Linked DNA regions of Homo sapiens. The protein of the gene in region 1 interacts with the protein of each later gene in a pairwise test. Each region holds a gene or a part of one and is shown in the gene's direction. Other genes may lie near its edges.

Region 1 (7,024 bases):
TACTAAAAATAAAAAAATGAGTTGGGTGTGGCGGCATGTGCCTGTAATCCCGGCTACTCAGGAGGCTGAGGCAGGAGAATCGCTTGAACCAGGGAGTTGGTTGCAGTGAGCCGAGATCTTGTCACAGCACTCCAGCCTGGCGACAGAGTGAGACTCCGTCTCAAAAAAAAAAAAAAAAAAAGAAAAAGAAAGTGATTCCATAGCTGATGTCTCTTGGTGGAGAAGTGGGTTTTGCCCCCTTTGTTTCCTTGACACTGTCCCTGCAATCTCACTAGTGGTGTGGTGTTAGAAAGAGATGGCTGCTCTGTGTGACCTTAGCCAGTTCATTTGTAAAATAGAAGCCTCAGTTCATGTGTAAAGTAGAAATCATAATGGTCCTTTCCCCATGGGGTTGTTATAGGATGACCTGAGATAGTGCAGGTTGCAGTGCCTGGGACTAAGTAATTGCTCAATAAATACCAGCTATTTGTTGCGACTGGCTGTTAACCTTCTGTTTAAGAATGATAGCTGATTAACAGCCTCTAATTATGCTAAAAAATGTTCCTCTTCCTCCTTAATGGCCTCCTCCCTCCCCATCCCAATCTGTGTTCAGTGCTTGGAGGGCTTGTTGTTGCAATCTCTTCCCACCTTTCCATTTCTACGACCAGCATCTCAGTTTACTGTTGGTTCTACCTGGAAGCATTACGGCAACCCCTACCCACCCTGAACCGCTCATGTGTGTGTCTGGTAGGGTCTTTTCTCTGTTTAAAAACCTCAGTGGCCCCTCTCACCTGCACAGAGTTTACAGTAAGATTTCTTCACTTGGACACTGTTGACCCTTTGGGCCCTGTGATTTTTTTTTTTTTTTTTTTTTTTTGAGACGGAGTCTCGCTCTGTCGCCCAGGCTGGAGTGCGGTGGTGTGATCTTGGCTCACTGCAAGCTCCGCCTCCCGGGTTCACGCCATTCTCCTGCCTCCCAAGTAGCTGGGACCACAGGTGCCCGCCACCACGCCTGGCTAATTTTTTGTATTTTTAGTAGAGACGGGGTTTTACCATGTGAGCCAGGATGGTCTTGATCTCCTGACCTCGTGATCTGCCCACCTCGGCCTCCCAGAGTGCTGGGATTACAGGCGTGAGCCAGCGCGCCGGGTCTGGGCCCTGTGATTTTTGTTGTGGGGCTATCCTGCGTGTCGAAGGATGTTGAGCAGCATCCCTGGCCTCCACCCACTAAATGCCAGCAACACTTCCCTCCCCCTGCTGTGACAACCAAAAATGCCTCCAGACATTGCTGAGTGTCCTTTGGAGGGACAGTCATCCCGGCTGAGAACCACTGCGCTCGTAGTCTGTTTTCAGTTCGCCTTTCTGGCTTCCTCCTACCCCCTGGTCATTCTTTTGTTCTTTGGCTTGCTTGGTTCGTTAGCCACCAGCTGTTTCTGGGGAGCCTAACTGTGCTAGGCAGTGGGCTGCACTCCTTGGCGTTCCCCTGGCTGGAAGACCCCGGGTGCTGGCCGCTTTTCTGAATGTGTTCTGGTTGCGTATCATCCTCAGCTATTTGCTTTTGAGTGGGATGTCGTTCCCCTACCTAATCTCAACCTTTGAAGTCTTACCTGTTCTTTCAAGCTAGGCCCAGATGTGACGTCCTCCCTGAAGCCTGCCTTGTTCCCCACCCCACCTTGGAATTTGACCTTTCCTACGCCCTTGCCACATTTCACATAATTGTGTGTGTGTGTGGTGTCTCCTGCACTGTTATAGCATAAGCCCCAAATGGAGTGAGAAGCTGTGCTCTTCCTAGTGTCAGGCTTTGGAAAGCTGGACTGGGCAATTACACCGGCTAGAAATTCTCCTCAAATCCATCTTTCAGGCCGGGCACGGTGGCTTGTGCCTGTAATCCCAGCACTTTGGGAGGCTGAGGCAGGCGGATCACTTGAGGTCAGGAGTTTGAGACCAGCCTGGGCAACATGGTGAAACCCCGTCTGTACTAAAAACACAAAAATTAGCCGGGCGTGGTGGCGCATGCCTGTAGTCCCAGCTACTCAGGAGGCTGAGGTGGGAGGATTATCAGACCCTGGGGGAAGGTCAAGGGTGCAATCCCACTTCACTCCAGCCTGGGCGACAGAATGAGACGCTGTCCCCCCCCCACCAAAAAAAATCCATTTTTCCCACAGATGCTGCAAGAGAGCTATTTAAAATGCAGCAGCTCATGCCACTGATTAAAACCCTTTGGTGCCTCCCCAGCACACACGAGAGAAAGTCCACGTTCTTGGAAGTGGCACACAGGTCCAAGATCTGGCCTCGCCACTTTCTGCCTGCCTTGGGCGGCAGGCTTGACCTCATGTGACCGCCCCCACTCACGGCTGTTTTTGCTACTGTCTCCCCTGCCTGGAGCAGTGGCTTTCAGACTGCAGCTCATGACCTATTTGTGTGTTTGGAAGTGAATTTTGAGGGCCCTAAATTTTTTTTGACTTGAATAGAAAAGAAAAACCCAGAGTGCCCGTAGGTCTACCATTCTCAGACATAGCTGGTGTGTCCCCATCTAGCCACTCTAAAGGAGCCTGTCCCACTCCCGCCAGTCCCATCCCGTGTTATTTCCTATGTGTCACTTTTCACTCTCGGAAATTGTCCTCTTTGTTTGTTTGCTTGCATCCTGTCTCCCTCCTTCACTTGTGTGTGGAGGGGCCTTGTGAACAAGGATGTTCAGGGCTGTGTCCCTGGGACCTAGAATGTACCAGGCACATGTAATGAGTCGGGAGGGTGGGGGAGCCTGGGGGTGTGTTGTGTGCAGCGTGGGGCTCAGGGCCTGGGAAGATACCGCGCTGGGCCTCGTTAACTGCCCTGTGTGTGCAGGCAGCTACATCACCACGATCGGAGTGGATTTCAAGATCCGGACCGTGGAGATCAACGGGGAGAAGGTGAAGCTGCAGATCTGGGACACAGCGGGGCAGGAGCGCTTCCGCACCATCACCTCCACGTGAGTCCACACGCCCACTCCCACCCAACCCGCGCCACTGACCTGTGGACACAGTTGAGCGACCGGTGCCTGGTCATGGTGGAAATGTCACTGGTGGGTCCCTGAGGCTGTCGGGAAGTGAGCCTGTTGTTGGCTGTAGTAGGTGGCGTTTGGCTGCACCCTTCCTGGTCCTGAAGATGTGAGGGGGGTGCTGTGGGGGAGTCGCTGAGCACCCTGGCTGGAGTCTGGCCGGACAGTGGCCATGTTCTATCTCCTTGGAGAGTCAGCCGACCCTCCGGCCCACTGTGCCGTCACCTTACAGAGAGAGCAGAATAGCATTTGCCTCGCTAGGGGGTTGCGAAGTGCCTTGCCCACCCAGGACTTAGTCGCTGACAATTCCTCTTGGTAGGTGTCAGTTATGGCAGCTGGAGTTGGCCTGTGCAGGCTCCCGTCACCTGCACTGATGCCTTGGAAGTGACGCTGTCTAGAGACGAACACGGTGCATGTCAGCAGGCCCTTCCCTACCCTTAAAGCTGTTCCTGGGAAATCCGGCCGCCCACCGGTTGCCCACCTTTGTGGCTGAGCTGCAGGCCGGGGGGAAGCTGGGCTCCTGCGCAGATGGGCAGTGTCCTTCGGAGCGGCTCCTGGTTATTGGGTTGTTAGTGGAGCAGGTTTTAGGAAAGAGCAGGGTCTGAAGGGGCCGATTTGGAGCTGTTGGGCTGTGTGTCCTTAGGCAAGTTGCCGAAGCTCTCTGCGCTCGTTTCCTGGAGGGCCTGCCTCTGGGATTGGCTTCCATGTGGAGGGTGCCAGGTGCTCTGCTGCAGGCGTCAACGTGCGTGCCGGGGTGTGGTGTCTGGCAGCTCTGTGTGCTTGGTGCTGCTGTCATCCCATTTGACAGAGGGCGCCCTGGAGGGGTCCCTCCCAGCGGCCAAGCCTGTGCTCCACACAGTGGCCTGTGCAGAGTGAGGGGCGGCTGTCTGGCTCCACGGGCACCTCCTTGGCTCTCTCGAGCAGCTCCTCTGGAAGTGACCTCAGGAAGGCGAATGAGGAAGTCCCAGCCAGCGGCCCCCTTCCTTCCCACAGCATGAAAGCCCGGCACTCCCCAGGCTGGCTGCCCCTGCCCCCGGGCCCCTCGGCATCTCCCGAGGGTGGGAAGTGTGGGGTGCAGCGCCCCCATGGATGGCTGGGAGTATGGGGGAGAGCAGGGCTGCTGGAGAGGGACAGGTGTGCTGGGCGAGCAGCTCCTGGGGCTGGAGCCAAGGCGGAGGGCTTGTCACTGGGTTCACCCTATGCTGAGCACATTTGTGCTGTGGCCCGTGATGCCCGGAATCCCTGGGAGCTCCCAGTCCCGGGGTCGCCCTGGTGTGGTGCTGTGTGGTGACCGTTGATGAGCCCTGTGAGCGAGGGCTCTGTGGCCTGCATGTCTTGGCAGCTGCCAGTGAGAATCTGCGGAGGACACTGGGGCAGGGCTGGCATCAGTGCTTTGGGCAGCCTGGGGCTGCAGGCCCAGGCGAGGCAAGCCCTCATGCCGTTGGCTGGTCTGGGCGCTGACCTCATGAATCCTTGCTCTGGGTTGGTCCTGTCGCTAGGATTTCAGCTGCTTTATTTTGGTTAATCCCGGTAGAGAGACCTGTGACTATCTCCATTTTATGGACAGGAAAACAGGCCCAGGGAGGATGAAGCCTCCTAACTCAGTGGGGCAGAGGTTGGGGGCACTCAGGGTTGGCCCTGAGTCTGCCGAGGCCCTGCATCGACTGGGCAGGTGGCGCCCCTGCCTTCCTGCCCCGTCCTGTGCCTTAAAACCAGGCGGAGGTTCAGGGTGGCAGAGGTTCAGAGGCCCGTGGCCATGAGGAATGAACTCCTGGGCAGGGCAGTGGGGCCTGGGGGGTCCGAGGCTCTTTCAGCAGGAGGAGCCACAGCCCCTCCCTGCCATCATGCAGTCAGCTGCTTTCTGGGCTGGGCAGAGCGGGAAGAAGGTGAACTGGTTCCTCCATTCCGTGGGGAGGCGGGGAGGAGTCACTCAGCTTCCTGGGAGCAACATGGGTTTTTCCCCAGGGGCTTGGGAAGGGGCGGCCTGTGGGCAGCGGCTGGGCCCCTGCTGCCGTCCCACGTGTCTGGGGAAGCAGACAGGTGGCTCCATCTTAGAGTCCCGCTCTGGCCCTCATGAGGCAGGAGGCCCAGCAGGGCGCCCTGAGGGGCCACTGGAAGTCTCGACGCCCTTTGATGGTCACTGGCAAAGAAGGAAGGAGTTTTGGGGAGGTGAGGAGTTTTCAGGAATAGGGCAGTCAGGATGCAGTAGCGTGACTTTTTTCCGATGCAGGGCGTTCAGAGAGAAACTGAAACTGCATCCTGTTAGCCTGGCGAGAAAAAGCCTTGTGGTCACCCCTTCTCGGGTTCTTGCTCTCAGAAGCTGAGGTTTGCCGGCCCTGAGAGGTGCGGGTGGGATGGAGGTGAGGGGAGAAGTGACAAGGAAGGCAAGGCCCTGGCGTTGGGCCTGGGAGTCAGCCCTGGGCGCCAGGACTTCCAGCTGGCCGCTGCACTCAGCCTCACGTCCTTGCTGGTCACATGGCCATCCTGAGGTCTGCTGGATCAGGTGGCTGCAGACATTAATAAGGTAATGGATACCAAGCCCCCAGCTCTGTGCCTGGCCTAGAGCAGAGTCCCTGTGAGTGAAGGTGATTCCTGGTGGCCATGGGAAACGTCGGTGCTCCGGTTCCTCCTAGCCAGAGCTCTGAGCCCCTGACTTCATCCCCAGACAAATTCTCTGCTCTCAGATAAAGCCCCTTTCCTGGGCCCCGGATGAGGCAGAGGCGCCCAGGGAGCCGCGGGGGCTGTGCGCCGGGGCCATGGCTGCAGGCGTTTCTTGGCATCTCTGATCATCTTCAGCAAAGGAGAGTCTGCAGAGCCATCCGCTCCTTGGGCTTCCTCTGCTGGCAGGGGACAGTCGCCTGTTCCTGTGGCTCCGGCGCGCCCTCGCTCTGGAAGGCGTCTGACACACCATGCCATGTGCTGACCCGGCGCTCTCAGCAGCAGCTGCCAAGGCCAGAGCTAGTTCTTGGGCCCAGTGCCAAGAGAGCTTGATCGTCACAGCTACCCCGAAGCCAAGGAGCGACGCTGCCCTGGAAGCAAAGCTGTGGGCAGAATGAAGCCCTGGGAAGAGATCCCAGCGGTCGTGTTGAGGATGGAGCAAGGATGGGGCAGGGGCGGTGGCAGGGGCAGGTTGGGCTTTGTCCCAGGGCTGGGCAGGAGCTCTGGCTCTGCAGCATCAGGGAAGATGCTCAGGGCTGCCCCTAAGCTGCCTGTTGGTTTCCTTCCACCACCTCTGTCTGGGACCACAGATTGTCCTTGAAGGCACATTGATGATGCTGAAGAACGCATACTGACTGTTTACTGCTCCCCCGCCTTGGGGTAATGCTTAGCTCCTTTCTTCCTCATGACCACCCCAGTTAAGGACTAGCCACCTGTGTGCTATAACTGTTGAAGCTGCAAGGTGTGGCAGGGTGAATGCAGGCACCTTCCCAAGGGCCAGCCTTTCAGAGATGGAGCCAGGGTTGGTCTTTGTCCTTAGATCGGGCCTCAGATGTGAAGCATTGGCCAGAGAGCTGATGGGCAGGTGGACAGGAATGGAGCTGCAGCCACAAGTCAGCCTGGCTGCCCCATTCTTGCTCAGCCTGCGCTGACTTGGGCTGTTCCTGAACTGGGGCTTGGGCTGTCCCCATGAACCTCATGGGGGTGGAGGTAATTAGGGCTGGGGCAGGTGGCAGCCAGAAAGCCGGGAGGAAGCGGCCTGTCCACTCATGGTTTGTCTGTGTGCTGTCCTGAGGAGCCCTGGGGTGGAGGTCCCTGCGGCTTTGGGGAGAGGGGACAGAGGGACAGCTCTGGCTGATTGCACAGTGTGGGGCGGGGCTGCCGCCTGGCCTCCGGCTCTTCGACAGCTCTCGGGGAAGCGGAGGCTGTGGTCCCCCTCCTCCTCCGGGGATTGATGTCGTCCTGTGCCACTGGGATGAATGGGGACATGGGGTCTGGAGAGGAGAGTTGGGCCTCCCCTTCCTTCTGGCCTTCCTGGCTGGCCCTGGGCTCTGCATGTTTGGGGTGATG
Region 2 (7,024 bases), on another chromosome or scaffold:
GCCTCGCAATGTATTTTCATACCTTCTCTAATAAATCTGCCTTTTGTAATAAAAAAGAAAAGGTACAGTTTGTGCCTTTCATACAACTTGGCCCCTAAATGCAAACCATTTTTATCCCATCTGCTGCTTAAGCAAAGGAAACAGTGATGTGTTCCAACTCTGGAGGCAAAGCTGGCTGTTCGACTCCCCCAGATGGTCCTGTACTGTACTTTCTGGGCGAGTGGAGGCATTTCAAGAGTGACTTTGACTAGCCTTGACTTTTTACCAGACTGGGTAAGTTTGGAGCCTGCCCCTGGCTGAGATGTCGTGGTGCTGTGCTGAGTGTTCAGCTGTGCCACCACGCTCAGTGGGTGCCAGTGACCCCGGGCACAACAGACAGACCCCCACCCTGGAGGAGCTGCAGCCTGCTCAGGGAGCCAGGGCAGGAGTGAAGGAAGCCGAGTGGCTGTGGGAAATCAGAAAGGGGTTGGGGAGTAATGTCAGGATGAAGTCCAGCTTCTTCATGTGGCTTCTAAGGGCCTCTCCCCAGTCAGCTGGAGCCACTCCTGGCACCAACCATAGTGTTATTGAATTTATTTCTTTTTTTGAGACAGAGTCTTGCTCGGTTGCCCAGGCTGGAGTGCAGTGGCGCGATCTCAACTCACTGTAACCTCCACCTCCCAGGTTCGAGCGATTCTCCTGCCTTAGCCTTCCGAGTGGCTGAGTGGCTGTGATTATAGGCGCGCACCACCATGTCCAGCTGATTTTTGTATTTTTAGTAGAGATGGTGTTTCACTATGTTGGCCAGGCTGGTCTTGAACTCCTGACCTCAAATGATCCACCCACCTCAGCCTCCCAAAGTGCTGGGATTATAGACGTGAGCCACTGTGCCCGGCCTGAGGAGCTGAGTCTTAGAGGAACCCAGGGTGGGTGGGTTTGTTCTGGTGAGGGGGTGTGCAGGCCGGGTTCTGGCCCCCAATACCCACTTGGGGATAGGCAGGACAGCTCCTTGTCAACCCCAAGGAGGCAGCGCCTTTCCTGAGCTGTCAGGGCAGCACCATATGGTTCCTTTCTTTTCCTTTCCTTCACCTCCTCTACCCTGGTGGCAGGGAAGCTGCTGGTGTAGCCACACGCGGGTGCTGTGTTCTGTGATCGTACTGTTGCGCCATTGTTCGGATTGGCTCTGTGCAGTAGGAGTCACTCTCCCCATTTGATGGAGGTTCAGTGAGGTTCATGGCTTGCCCTCAGCACTTGGCTTAAAACTGGAAGCGTCCCCGGGCCCGTGTGAAGCGGGAGCCAGCTCCTGTCCCACTGCATTAGGTGGTCTGCCTTTAGGTGATGGCTACAGGTCTCAAATCTTCAGCCAGGTTGGGACCTCCTGGGACTCCAGGATCTCCACCTGCTTCAGGACCCCTTTCTCATCTCTTGGCAGCTGGTGTCTCGCCACCCAGAAAGGGCCTTGCACCCTGTTCCCCGCCGTCTGTAGCACCCACTCCAGTGGAACCAGAAGATGTGGCTCAGGTAGGCAGATACCTGGAGAGGTGGGAGGGCCAGGGGTGGAGGGGGCGAGTTATGTGGACGACTATCATTGCAGTGACTGGGTCATGTGAGGAAGTTAGCCCTGACAGTGTTCAGAGGGTGCTTGTTCTCTGTCCCTGCCCTATTGGCTTTGGGAACAGGTGTCCCTGACTGGGGCAGTGAGGCATGGGTCAGGAGGCCAGTCCCGTTCTATGGGCAGGGAGCCCTACCTCCTTCTCCAGGACTCAGGTGGGGTCAGGAGATGCCAGCTCTGGCAAGGGGAGAGAGGGCAGTCCACAATGCTGACTTCACCATCATGGGACTGTCAGGAGTTACACACGTAGTAAAGCAAAGATTCCCCTTGATTCCTGTGGAGACAGCTGTAAACTTCCCGGCTTGATTTCCTTTAATCCTCTCAACAACCCAGGGAGGTCAGCATTATGGGCCCTGGTATACAGATGAGGAAACTGAGGCTCAGTGAGGTTTAGTCATTTGTCCAAGGTTACTTAGTAAGGAAGTGGGGGCCAACTGCCAGTCACCTGTTTGAAGGGCTTAGAGGAAGTGACACCAGCCCTTCACATCTGGACGGCACCTTACAGTGTGTAAAGGGCCTTCCCCTCCTGCTCCCATCTGCTCTTTGCTGGAGGGAGCTAGCCCCAGGGTGGGTGCTCCATGAGGGTACATGGGGCTGAGGCTGGCAGGGGTTATACAGTTTCATTCTGCAGGTGGGACCCAAGCCCACACTTGAGCAGCTTGCTCAGGTTCACTGTGCTTGGATGTAGAGAAACTGGGATTTAAATCCGTGGCAGTTCTAGGAGAGAACAGAAAAGGCAGCTGAGGTCGGCCTGGGAGGACAGGAACCTGTCAGGGGGGCTCCCCCGCAAAGGGGAGGAGGAGGGGGCAGGAGCCGCCAAGGGGAAGGGGCTGCACAGCCAGGAGCTGCCTTCCTTTGGGGAGGGAAGCCTCAGAAACCGGAAGTCAGGATTTTCGTGTTTCCGCACTGGCTCAGTGACCTTGAACAAGGCTTTCCTCCGTTCTGGGCTTTGGCTTCCTCACCTGGGAGACAGTGGCAGCCTCCTGCCCTCTGCCCCTCCTGGGGCCCTGATGAAGTCCATTTCCACCACGAAGCCTGGTGCACACTTGAGTGACGGTGGCCGTTGGAGGGAGGGAGAGGGCAGTGATGTGAACAGGATGGCTGGTGACCATGTCCTGCTCCCAACCTCCCCCACCTCGTTCTCTGCAGGGCGAGGAGCTCTCCTCAGGCAGCCTGTCAGAGCAGGGCACCGGCCAGACCCCCAGCAGCACGTGCGCAGCCTGCCAGCAGCATGTGCACTTGGTGCAGCGCTACCTGGCTGACGGCAGGCTGTACCATCGCCACTGCTTCCGGTGAGTGGCCAGGGCCGCGTGTTACCCCCGAAACCAGGGAGGGGGCTACCGTGGGTTCAGCACACACAGTGCGCCAGGCACCTTGCCAGGCCCTTCACACCAGAGCCCCTGGCTTATCCCCATTTTACTGATGAGCAAACCAAGGCTTAGTGAGGGGAAAAGCAGTTGCTCAGCCACATGATTCGAGACAGAAACAGGGTTAGAGCACAGGGGTTTTCCTTCCAGCGCCTACGCTTTTTGAGGATAACTACTGGATGAGGATGAAGGAGCACTTTAAAAGCCACGTGTACTTTAAAAGCCATTGAAAATTAGCCGGGCATGGTGGTGCACACCTCTAATCCCAGCTACTCGAGAGGCTGAGGCAGGAGAATCGCTCAAACCCGGGAGGCAGAGGTTACAGGAAGCCGAGATCGTGCTACTGCATTCCAGCCTGGGTGACAGAGCGAGACTCTGTCTCAAAAAAAAAAAAAAAAAAAAGGCCATTGAAAAAATAAAATGAAATATTTTAGCTTAAAAAATTTTTTTTTGGCCGGGTATGGTGGCTCACGCCTGTAATCCCAGCACTTTGGGAGGCCGAGACAGGTGGATCACCCTGAGGTCAGGAGTTTGAGACCAGCCTGATCAACGTGGTGAAACCTCATCTCTACTAAAAATACAAAAATTAGCTGGGTGTGGTCGTGGGCACCTGTAATCCCGGCTACTCGGGAAGCTGAGGCAGGAATCACTTGAAGCCAGGAGGTGGAGGTTGCAGTGAGCTGAGATCGCACCTTTGCACTCCAGCCTGGGCGACAGAACGAGACTCTGTCTCAAAAAAAAAATCTTTTTTTCTTTTAAGATGGGTCTACTATGTTGCCCAGGCTGGTCTCAACCTCCTTGGCTCAAGTGATCTTCCTGTCTTACCCTCCCAAGTAATCGGGACTACAGGCATGTGCTACCATGTTCTGCTTGAAGTTTTAAAAAATTACAGTAACAACTTGCTTTAAGTATGTGGCTTCCAAGGGAAGCCAGATTTTAAGAGAGTGGTATAAGCAGCAAGGAAAGTAAAAAAACTTAGAAAATTCATGGAAACATTTTATATGTTTCAAAAATGAAACCAAAAGAGGAAATTGAACAGTCAAGGAAGCCGGGAGTGGCAGCACGCACTTGATCTGGTTGAGTGTGCCCCTGAGTGGGGGGCAGCTGGTGCTGGAACCCTGGAACCTGACCGCAGAATTGGGGTGTCATGGGGAAAAATCTCGAGGAGGAAACAGACTCTACCAACACAGTCACATCTGGCTACCAGGGCAGTGTTTTAGAAACTTTTTACAGGCCGGAGCTGGGTGTGGTGGTGGCTCATGCCTATAATCCCAGCACTTTCGGAGGCTGAGGCTGGAGGATCGCTTGAGGCCCAGAGTTTAAGACTAGCCTGGGCAACATAATGAGACTTCATCTCTACAAAAAAATTAAAAAAAAAAAAAATTAGGCCAGGCGCAATGGCTCATGTCTGTAATCCCAGCACTTTGGGAGGCCGAGGCGGGTGGATCACGAGGTCAGGAGATCGAAGCCATCCTGGCTAACACGGTGAAACCCCGTCTCTACTAAAAATACAAAAAAAATTAGCCGGGCATGGTGGTGGCAGGCGCCTGTAGTCCCAGCTACTCGGGAGGCTGAGGCAGGAGAATGGTGTGAACCTGGGAGGCAGAGCTTGCAGTGAGCCGAGATCACGCCACTGCACTCCGGCCTGGGCGACAGACTGAGACTCCGTCTCAAAAAAAAAAAAATTAGCCTAGTGTAGTGGCACGCACCTGTAGTCTTAGGCATTTGGGAGGCTGAGGCAGGAGGATCACTTGAGCCCAGGAGTTTGAGGCTGCAGTGAGTTATGACTGCACTACTGCACTCCAACCTGGGTGACAGTGAGACCCTGCCTCAAAAATAAAAAGAAACTTTTTATAGCAACTCCTAGTAAAAAATACACTTGACACTGTGACTAGATGTAAATATTTACCTGAAATAAAACTGTGTAAGTAGAGGCACAGCTGGAGTAAGAGTTTCACAAAGCACTATTTGGCCTTTCTTGTATGATACTGTCTTATACATTGTATCTTATTCTATTTCATTAACAAAACACAGCCGGAAGTAGTGGCTCACACCTGTAATCCCAGCACTTTGGGAGGCCTATGCAGGTGGATCACTTGAGGTTGGGAGTTTGAGACCAGCCTGGCCGACTTGGTGAAACTCCGTCTCTACTAAAAATGCCAAAAAAAAATTAGCCAGGTGTGGTGGCAGATGCCTGTAATCCCAGCCACTCGGAAGGCTGAGGCAGGAGAATCTCTTGAACCCGAGAGGCGGAGGTTGCAGTGAGCCAAGGTCGCACCATTGCACTCCAGCCTGGACAACAAGAGTGAGACTCCATCTCAAAAAAACAAAACAAAACAAAATGAAAACAAAACACAAAACAACACCTGATTGGGTAAAAACCACTGCTTTATTTTCCTGAGCCACTACTGGATGCAGCCACTCACTGGATGCCACCTCTCAGGGGGACCTTTGCTTCTTCCTCTTGCAGCATAAACTGAAGGCATTTTTCACAATTTCTGTTGCTGAGTTCGTGTGATTTGGTGATTTTATTGTTCCACTATGCTTCTGACAGTTACTGTTTTCTTTATCCTCTGGGAAGTCTAGGGTATGGAGTCGAGCTTGGCTGGCAGTTGGGAGGAGGGAAGGGAGGAGACAGCCCTGGGTGCGGCTGGAGGGGTAGCCAGTGCCTGGGCCCAGCTGCCTGGCTAAGTGAACCCCTGTCCTGTCCCCTGCCAGGTGTCGGCGGTGCTCCAGCACCCTGCTCCCTGGGGCTTATGAGAATGGGCCTGAGGAGGGCACCTTTGTGTGTGCAGAACACTGTGCCAGGCTGGGCCCGGGGACACGGTCGGGGACCAGGCCTGGGCCCTTCTCACAGCCAAAGCAGCAGCACCAGCAGCAACTCGCAGAAGATGCCAAGGATGTTCCAGGAGGCGGCCCCAGCTCCAGTGCTCCTGCAGGGGCTGAGGCCGATGGACCCAAGGCCAGCCCTGAGGCCCGGCCGCAGATCCCTACCAAGCCCCGGGTTCCTGGCAAACTACAGGAGCTGGCCAGCCCCCCTGCGGGCCGCCCCACCCCTGCCCCCAGGAAGGCCTCTGAGAGCACCACCCCAGCACCCCCCACGCCCCGGCCCCGCTCCAGTCTGCAGCAGGAGAACCTGGTGGAGCAGGCTGGCAGCAGCAGCCTGGTGAACGGTGAGCAGGGTGCAGTCAGGGCAGGGGGCACCGGGTGGCAGTGCACTGTCTATTGAAAAGTCTGTGTGTCTGGGAGTGTTGGTGGGCCCCTCTCCATCTGTGCCATTGTGTGCTGTGCTGTGTTGGGGCCTGCCTGTGTTTTTGAGGTTATTATATATATATATATATATATATATTTTTTTTTTTTTTTTTTTTTTTTTGAGATGGAGTTTTGCTCTTGTCCCCCAGGCTGGAGTGCAGTGGCTTGACCTCGGCTCACTGCAACTTCCACCTCCCGGGTTCAAGCGATTCTCCTGCCTCAGCCTCCTGAGTAGCTGGGATTACAGGCATGCGCCACCATGCCCAGCTAATTTTGTTTTGTTTTTTTTTGTTTTTTTTTTTTTTTTTTTTTAGTAGAGACGGGGTTTCTCCATGTTGGTCAAGCTGGTGTTGAACTCCCTACCTCAGGTGATCTGCCTGCCTCGGCCTCCCAAAGTGCTGGGATTACAGGCGTGAGCCACTGTGCCCAGCCTATTATTATTATTTTTGAGATGGAATCCCACTCTGTCACCCAGGTTGGAGTGCAGTGGTGCGATCTCGGCTCACTGCAACCTTTGCCTCCCGGCTTCAATCAGTTATCCTGCCTCAGCCTCTTGAGTAGCTGGGATTACAGGCTACCACAGCCTGGCTAATTTTTGTATTTTTAGTAAAGATGAGGTTTCACCATGTTGGCCAGGCTGGTCTCAAACTCCCGACCTCAGGTGATCTGCCCACCTCAGCCTCTCAAAGTGCTGGGAGTACAGGCATGAGCCACTGTGCCGGGCTCTTTTTATTTTTTTTGAGACGGAATCTCACTCTGTCATCCAGGTGGAGTGCAATGGCACAATCTCGGCTCACTGCAATCTCTGCCTTCC

Evidence for each region. The genes of interacting proteins can lie anywhere in the genome.
Region 2: the proteins of RAB35 (region 1) and MICALL1 interact in a two-hybrid assay, tested with the Homo sapiens proteins (one study listed by IntAct).

What each region holds. Positions count from the first base shown.
Region 1 is NC_000012.12:120,099,749-120,106,772, reverse strand, and holds part of RAB35 (ras-related protein Rab-35), read left to right. Parts: intron 1-2,823; coding exon 2,824-2,947; intron 2,948-7,024. UniProt on the Homo sapiens protein: The small GTPases Rab are key regulators of intracellular membrane trafficking, from the formation of transport vesicles to their fusion with membranes.
Region 2 is NC_000022.11:37,916,296-37,923,319, forward strand, and holds part of MICALL1 (MICAL-like protein 1), read left to right. Parts: intron 1-1,411; coding exon 1,412-1,500; intron 1,501-2,740; coding exon 2,741-2,883; intron 2,884-5,676; coding exon 5,677-6,131; intron 6,132-7,024. UniProt on the Homo sapiens protein: Lipid-binding protein with higher affinity for phosphatidic acid, a lipid enriched in recycling endosome membranes. On endosome membranes, acts as a downstream effector of Rab proteins recruiting cytosolic proteins to regulate membrane tubulation.